Homo sapiens: one gene and its partner. The protein of the gene in region 1 interacts with the protein of each later gene in a biochemical or structural test. Each region holds a gene or a part of one and is shown on either strand. Other genes may lie near its edges. The genes, in order: MPV17 and PEX5.

The links.
Region 2: the proteins of MPV17 (region 1) and PEX5 interact in a test that uses a peptide from one of them, tested with the Homo sapiens proteins (one large-scale study listed by BioGRID).

The regions. Positions count from the first base shown.
Region 1 is NC_000002.12:27,308,707-27,313,127, forward strand, and holds the end of MPV17 (mitochondrial inner membrane protein Mpv17), read right to left. Parts: intron 4,404-4,421; coding exon 4,288-4,403; intron 4,067-4,287; coding exon 3,974-4,066; intron 3,884-3,973; coding exon 3,788-3,883; intron 3,541-3,787; coding exon 3,508-3,540; intron 3,246-3,507; coding exon 3,193-3,245; intron 1,276-3,192; coding exon 1,206-1,275; 3' UTR 786-1,205; downstream 1-785. UniProt on the Homo sapiens protein: Non-selective channel that modulates the membrane potential under normal conditions and oxidative stress, and is involved in mitochondrial homeostasis.
Region 2 is NC_000012.12:7,192,434-7,196,248, forward strand, and holds part of PEX5 (peroxisomal biogenesis factor 5), read left to right. Parts: intron 1-3,815.

The DNA of each region.
Region 1 (4,421 bases):
AATGCAGGCATCAGGAGTCCACCGCTGGCACTCAGCCAACACAGTGGGACCCACTGAGAGGCAGTCTGCCACAACCAAAGTCTCCCAGCATTCTTATCTTTTTCCAGCCCCAGGATCCAAATTGTAGGGCTGTCTGACAGGCACCATGTAACAGAGGGTCTCTAGCATCCGAGTGCTTTCAGACCACAAATGGCTGGCCCATCTGCTTTTGAGTTTGCCAAAGTAGTTTAGCAAAGTTCAGTTTCTCTCCTGGGAATCATAGCAGCAGTGTAACTCTGCCCATGAGCAGCAAAGAAATATGGGTTCAAGTTTCTGCTAACTCCTGGTGTGGACAGGTCACCTCCCTCCTACCAACCTCAGGGTCCTCATTTGTAAGACTGGGCTTGGCCAGGCGCGGTGGCTCACGCCTGTAATCCCAACACTTTGGGAGGCCGAGGCAGGCGGATCACGAGGTCAGTAGTTTGAAACCAGCCTGGCCAATATGGCGAAACCCCATCTCTACTAAAAATACAAAAATTAGCCGGGCGTGGCGGTATGCGCCTGTGGTCCCAGCTACTCAGGAGGCTGAGGCAGGAGAACTGCTTGAACCCAGGAGGCGGAAGCTGCAGTGAGGCAAGATCGCGCCACTGCACTCCAGCCTGGGAGACAGAGCAAGACCCTGTCTCAAAAAAAAAAAAAAAAAAAAAAAAAAAAATTGGGCTTGGTGGTCTCTTGGCTTCTTTCCAGCTCTAGAAATGACTCCCCAATAGTTTTCTGCTTAAAAACTTACTCATTACCACTGCAGATTCCGGATTACATATTTAATAACATATTTACTGAGGCACCATATAAAGGGTTCCGGGAGTCTCTAAAGAGCTGGAGCTACAAGAAGCCTAGGCAGGGTTAGAGTAACAAATGTGTCTATGAAGAGTGGGGATGAGTGGCATTTGCTGGGATATGGGTGTAAAGTTGATAAGGTCATGAAGGTTCAACAGATATTTATGGAGTGCCTAGTATGTGGTGGGAATAAGACTATTATCAAGGGCTCTAAAGCAGTCAGTGTACATTTTAGAGTGAAGAGGGGCATTGCAGGGTGCTAGTCCTCTTAAGCTCTGACCGGCAACCCAACCCCGTGGAAACTGGTATGCCCACTTTGAGGAGGTTGTCTGACCGTTCCAGGGTCAAGCTGCATCACTGCAAGGTGGAAACGATGGAGTGAGGCAGGCTTAGAGCCGATGTGCCTTCCAGGACAGGTAGGAGTTCCAGATAACAGCAACACATTGGACAACGGCCAACCTAAGGAACAGGAATAACACAATGAAGAGGAGGAAGGCTAAGCAGTGAGCAAGGGCTGGAGATGGGAGCATGAAATGGCAAAGGAGGGATCATGACAAAGGATTGGCAGGTTTAGGTCTCTTTCCTTCAGCACCTTTTTTTTGAGATGGAGTCTCCTCTGTTGCCCAGGCTGGAGTGCAGTAGCACAATCTTGGCTCACTGCCTCCCGGGTTCAATCAATTCTCGTGCCTCAGCCTCCCAAGTAGCTGGGACTACAGGTGTGCTCCACCACACCTGGCTAATTTTTGTATTTTTAGGAGAGACAGGGTTTCACCATGTTGGCCAGGCTGGTCTCGAACTCCTGACCTCAAGTGAGCCACCCACCTCGGCCTCCCAAAGTGCTGGGATTACAGGTGTGAGCCACGACACCCAGCCCTTTCAGCACCCTATGAAGGGCCTGTGTGGCTTGCACTAAAGGACAACTGGCTCAAATTCTAGTGCCATCCCAGAGCTCTGTTTCCTGGCTGAGAGCCTCAAAGGCTAAATATTCAGCGGCTCTCTTGCCATGCATAGCTCTGTTAATCACAGAAAGGGCCCCTATCTGGGCCCCTTCTAAGTTCATTGATCTGTCTTGTACCAGCTGAGATTTCATCTTCCGAAATGTACGGACTATCATATAAAGTAGCATCTTTCTGTTTTAAATTAACCTTGCTCTGGTTTCAAAGAGTGTTGCAAAGGACCCTAATGTTTAGGATTTGGTTCATAAGTCTGTATTCCTTTTTTGTTTTTTCGGGTTTTTTTTGAGACGGAGTCTCGCTCTGTTGCCCAGGCTGGAGTGCGGTGGCAAGATCTTGGCTCACTGCAACCTCCGCCTCCCAGGTTCAAGCGATTCTCCTCCCTCAGCCTCCCGAGTAGCTGGGACTACAGGCACCTGCCACCACACCCAGCTAATTTTTGTATTTTTAGTAGAGACAGGGTTTCAACATATTGGCCAGGCTGGTCTCGAATTCCTGACCTTGTGATCCACCTGCCTCAGCCTCCCAAAGTGTTGGGATTACAGGCGTGAGCCACTGTGTCCAGCCTTTTTTTTTTTTTTTTTTTTTTTTTTTTTTGGAGACAGGGTCGTCTCACTCTGTCACCAGGCTGAAATGCAGTGGCACAATCTCAGTTCACAGCAACCTCCATCTCACAGGCTCAAGTGATCCTCCCACCTCAGCCTCCCGAGTAGCTGGGACTACGGGCACATGTTACCATGTGACTGGCTAATTTTTTGTATTTTCTGTAGAGATGAGGTCTCACTATATTGCCCAGGCTGGTGTGAAACTCCTGGACTCAAGCAAACCTCTTGCCTCAGCCTCCCAAAGTGCTAGAATTACAGGTGTGAGCCACCGTGCCCAGCCAGTCTGTATTCGTTTTAGCTATGCTACTCATGTACATTTTGGCCCTGTTCCCTCTGAAGCGTTCCATATTTTCCCCTGTTCCCACGATCCTTCACCTTCAAGCATTTGAACCACACATCTTCAGTGCCACTATCTTTTTGGGTGCAGTTCAGCAACTGTCTTTATTGTGAGTGTCTGACCAGGCTCCTACTTGGCCTTCTGGTCTACCTCTCTGTCTAACCTAGGCTGCAGCACCCCAGCCACTGTCCCTCCAGATATGCCATCAAAGACGGAGCTCAGGTGGGATGGAGACAAGGGTGGTAGAAGCAGGATCCTCCCTAGGGAGATGAAGAAGGTCAGTGGGCAGACACTCTGGGACAGTTTCCGGAAATGGCAAGACATTCTGAATAACACGCTTGGGAATCTGAGGAACTCTGATCACGGCTCAGTGTTCCGTTTGGGGGTCTAAGGTAGCTCAAGGTTGAAATGAGAATCATTTTGTCTCCAACTGTTGGTAACGTGGGTCTTCCTTGATGGGTGGGGTAGGGGTGCAACATACCTGTAATGAAGGGGGACCAGGTAGAAGTTGGCTAACTGCACAGCAGGCCATAGCTGCAAGAGAAAATGTAAAGGTTGGATGGCTGCCCCACCACCTGACCCCAGACTCACTGTCTTGCCTGGCCCTACCCCAACTTCTGCACACAAGAAAAAGGTGAACAGTTGGGTGATGGCTTCCCTATTTATGGTGCCCATCCTGGGAATGAAAGAGTAATCCCAACGGAAGGGTTTCCCATGTCAGGAGGACCCCCCAATCCCAGGACAGTTCTAGACTTAAGGAAGCAGGAGAACAAGCAGTTGAGGTGTCAGCTCTTACATAGTAGTTGGTGATAAGGGCATCAGGATAATCCTGGGGAGACAGAGAAGGAACAAATTAACACTTGCGCCTCCAAGCAGCTCCCACTTCCCAGTATGAATGTCACACACAGACTTGGGTTCAAAGAGCACATTCCTGCACCATAACCCTCAGCTCCTCTCCTCCATGGCCTGGGGCCCTACCTGCACTTACCCCCTTTTTTATCCCTGTAAAACCTGTCTTCTTCCCCTGGGCTGTCAGCCCGCCAGCCAGAGACATTCTCCACACCTGCCCAGCTCACCCGCTGTAGTTTGGCCCAGTTGTCCTGGGCTGACAGTCCATTAAGTGCCCCTACCAGTGGGAGAAAGCAGCCTAGAAAACACGGGGCAAAGCCCCCCTAGGGAAGAGAAATTAAAGTCCTATGAGTGCTGAAATCCCCACCTACCCCCAACACAGCTCACCCTCCCCACTCTGTTCTCCTGCTCACCTGATCCAACAACATCTTCTTCAGTGCATCCACTTTGGTGGTGCCAGGGATGAACCGATCCAAAACCTTGTACCAGCCTCCTACCACAGGGCCCTGGAAGTAAACCCCAGATAGCAGCAGGCTGCAGTGAGGGAGCCCTAGGCCTCTACCTCACTAAGCTCCCTGCCCCAAGTATCAGAATAGGGGAAGTGGACACTAAGAAAAAAGAGGGCGGCAGGTTGGCTTAGGTGTGAGAGTCCAAGGGAAGCCAAAGGATGGCAAAGAACTAAGACCACTGTTGAGTCCACTGAAGCCCTGTTGAGGGGAGAACTTACCACAAAGCCACAGCCCAGGGACACCATGGTCAGAGTCCGGCCTCTCTGGTGTTCCTGCAGACCCCGCCTCTCCACCAGCTGCTGTGAGATAATGTCACCCAGGCCCATCAGGGACCCTATGCAGGGTACACAGG
Region 2 (3,815 bases), on another chromosome or scaffold:
AGACTTAAAGGTTTCAGCCTAATTTTTCCTCTTTGAAAGCATCCATTGCTCCTGCATCTTTTATGATTGATTCTTCTTGCCCTAAGCCTATCTAATCAGGTACATGGTGGGAAGGGCAGTCTCTTCAGCTTTCCTCTTCCTGATTGCTCTCAAAAGTTAGCCTTTTTCCTGTTTAAGATATCAAGAATAACAAGAGATACACATAGAGAAAGTTACCAAGTTCCAGGATCTCGGGGAGTCACATCATCATGGTTCCTGAATTTTTCTGAGATGATTAAAGGGACTGAATTGGTTTCTACCCCCACCATTTTAATTTATGTTCTTTCTTCGTTTGCTACAGATTTCAAGGTCTCAAGTCTAATTTTCCTTGAGAGCATCCATTGCTCCTCGCATCCTTTAGGATTGATTCTTCTTACCCGAAGCCTATCTGATCAGGGACAAATGTGTGTGAAGGAGGCCCATGTTTAGGATGGGCTTCTCCGCACACAAGAGAAAAATCCCAAATCTAAAAACTAAAACTCACCTTTAATAAGATCTGTGGGTCTCTTTTATCACGTGTCTCTTTCCCACCCATAAGTTGGAGTTAAGGTAGAACAGTAGGTGCTCTTGGCTTTAAGAGTGCTAATCACTTTATCTTCTTAAGCTCATTAGAACTTCACAGTAACAGTAACACAAGGTGGATATCCCACCCCCATTTTATAGATGAGGAGACTGAGATTTGGAAAAGTTAAATACTTTGTGCAAAATCATTGAATAATAGAGATGATATTCAAACTCATGTCTGTGTGGCTCTTGAGATTCTTTTTTTTTTTTTTTTTTTGAGACAGGGTCTTGCTCTCACCCAGGGTGGAGTGCAGCGGTGCAATCTGTACGCACTGCAACCTCTGCCTCCTGGCTTCAAGGGATTCTCCCGTTTCAGCCTCCTGAGTAGCTGGGACTACAGGCGTGTGCCACCATGCCCGGCTAATTTTGGTATTTTTAGTAGAGACAGGGTTTCACCATGTTGGCCAGGCTGGTCTTGAACTCCTGACCTTAAGTAATCCACCACAGCCTCCCAAAGTGCTGGGATTACAAGCGTGAGCCACCGCACGCGCCCTCACGTTGAGATTCTTTGTGAAATTGCCGCAAGTTAAAATCTGAACCATAGCAAAGACCCTCTCCAAGACAGAAACTCAGTTTTTCACATAAACCTTAGACTTAAGTGCTATCTCTTATCACAGAGAGGCTTCTGTTGTAATGTGGGCATTAGTCATTTTTGATAATTCAGAAAAATCATTGCTACTATGAGCGTTGAGATGGATGAAATTTTTGCTGTAATTACCTGAATTGCATGCAGCCATTGAAATCTTCCTTAACTTGAAATGAAAAAGAACTTTAGAAAAACATGTTTTATCTGTCTCACCAGTTAAATGCTCTTAGTAGAGCTCTTCTAGTATTTTGTAGATTCTTTTGGAATCGTGCCTGTTTCACAGAGGCAGAGACATGCAAACCTTAGAATGGGAGTTGAGCTGTTTGAAGTCTGCCTTCATAAAAATGTCTTATTGCAGCAGTATATTGCTTTGCATGTAGTAGGCCTCTGGTATTGAATGAATGAATTGAGATCTGGGAGAAAAAGCTAAAGGAAAGGAGTTCATTTTGTCGTAACTGACTTTTTTTTATTATCCTTCATTTTTAATTACAGCATTTGTGGTTGATACAATTGTATGGGTTAGCTATGGCTTTATAGATAAGTAGATTTTGAGATGAAAGAAGGTTATACTTTTTAAGTTCTTATTTTAAAATCTCCACTGTTAAGAGTCAAAATCAAGTTTAAAAAGAATGTTGCAGCTCAATTATTTAAATTTAAATTTTTTATTTGGAAGTACTTAGTTTCACTGGAAGTTGAAAAAAAAAATGTATAGGAAGGTTCTGTATACCCTTCACCCAGTCTCCTCCAGTGGTAACATTTTACATAGCAGTTATGCAGAGATCAAAAATCAAGAAGTTGCCCTTGTTTCAATCCTCAGAGTTTATTAGGTTTCACCAGTTTTACATGCCCTTATTTGTGTGTGTGTGTTTTTTGCAATTTTATTAAATGTGTAGATTTGTGTAAGCACCATCATGATCAAGATACAGAACTATTCTCTCACCACATGAAGTTCATTTTTTTAGCTTACCTTATTTTGTAATGGAATCCCCCCGTCTTAAATCTTCTGGGTCAAATAATTCTCCATCTTGTGTTTGCTCAGATCTAGAGATAAAACACATCTTCAGGGTTCTTAAATTTAGACAGCTTCGGTTGACATGGTATGTGAGGTTCATATGATAATCGTGAGAGATAAACCTGCACTTTCATGGGAAAAGCCATGGATAGCAGTAGCAGAAGATAATTGGCAACAGATCTTTTCTGGATGTTGGAGGAGAGGCTTTGGAATAACAGTCTCATTGTGATGTTTTCTGCTTTTGTTATAGGTTTGCCATGAGCAGACTAATGATAATAACTAACATTTGTTACTGTATTCATTGGTTTTCACCGCAGCCCCTACTGTTATCTCTGCTTTAAAGATAAGGACATGGAAACTTAAGAAGGTTGAGTAACTAGTCTGAAGATGCACAGTGAATAAGTGATGGAGTTAGGATTTAAATGTGGGTAGACTGACCCTACAACTTGTATTCTTCTCCACAGTGCTGCTATTTAGCAGACACAGAAACTTTCATGAGTAAGAGTAGCAAGTTCTGAGTTTTTGACTTTTGAGCTTGGGGAAGATGTGCCTAGAAGGAATGAGTAAACAACGAGAAATTATATGAGGTGCACATTTTGAGTGGGGTATTTGGTGTCTAGGTTATTCTCACTCTACTAATCTGTATGACCTCAGGCAGTGCATCCCCTCTGTAGACCTTAGTTGCCTTGATCTCAGATGTATCCACATGGATCTGATTTTCTGTAGGAATTTCTCAAAGATTGTGAAGGCAGTGTGTTACTCTTTTGATTCTTTCGGTTATTTGACTCTTGTTGGAGTAGGTTCCCAATGCCAAGAAATTCTGGGTCTTGTGGCGATTTAATCTGGCCAACTACCAAATTATAGGTATTTGAGGATAGTTTTTCTCAGCTCTGGGATTTTTTTTCTTAAACTGCCTCATATCTATTGTTAAGTCCTCATGTCTGTTGTAAAAATTCAAAGGTGCTTTGTGTTTTTTCTGTTTTTTTTTTTTTGTCCTTGAGAGGACCATTTCATAGGAATTTGAAATGTTTTCTGTGAATTTGAGGAGCACTTATGGCCAGAATATGCTTTTGCAAAATACTCTAGTTGAGAGTTAGAAGTGTTTGGAGAGTTGAGGAGGTAGTAGTTATTTTTCAACAGAATGGAGCTAAGAATTTCAACTAAGAATGGAACTAAGGAACTAGGAGATCTTAAAGTCTCTTTGAGTATTAAGCATCTCCTTTCCGTCTCCACACTTGAGGCAACAGTCTAATTGGGGCAAATGGAAGAGAAATGCTTCCTGTAAGAGCTAGTGAGCAGAATCTGTATTTAATTTTTGAGAGTCCTTGAAATTAACAGATGGATCTATGGTCAAAAAAAATTGCCAACCATATTTCTTATTACATTATACATTATATATTATATATATTATATATACATTTTACATTATATATAATGTATATATAATGTATTTCTTATGTTATAACGTATTTCTTATTACATTATGTTATATATAATGTATTTCTTATTACATATGTTACATATAATGTATTTATTACATTATATATTATATATAATGTAATATATGTTATGTAATAATTATATATGTCATATATAATTTAATTATATGTCATA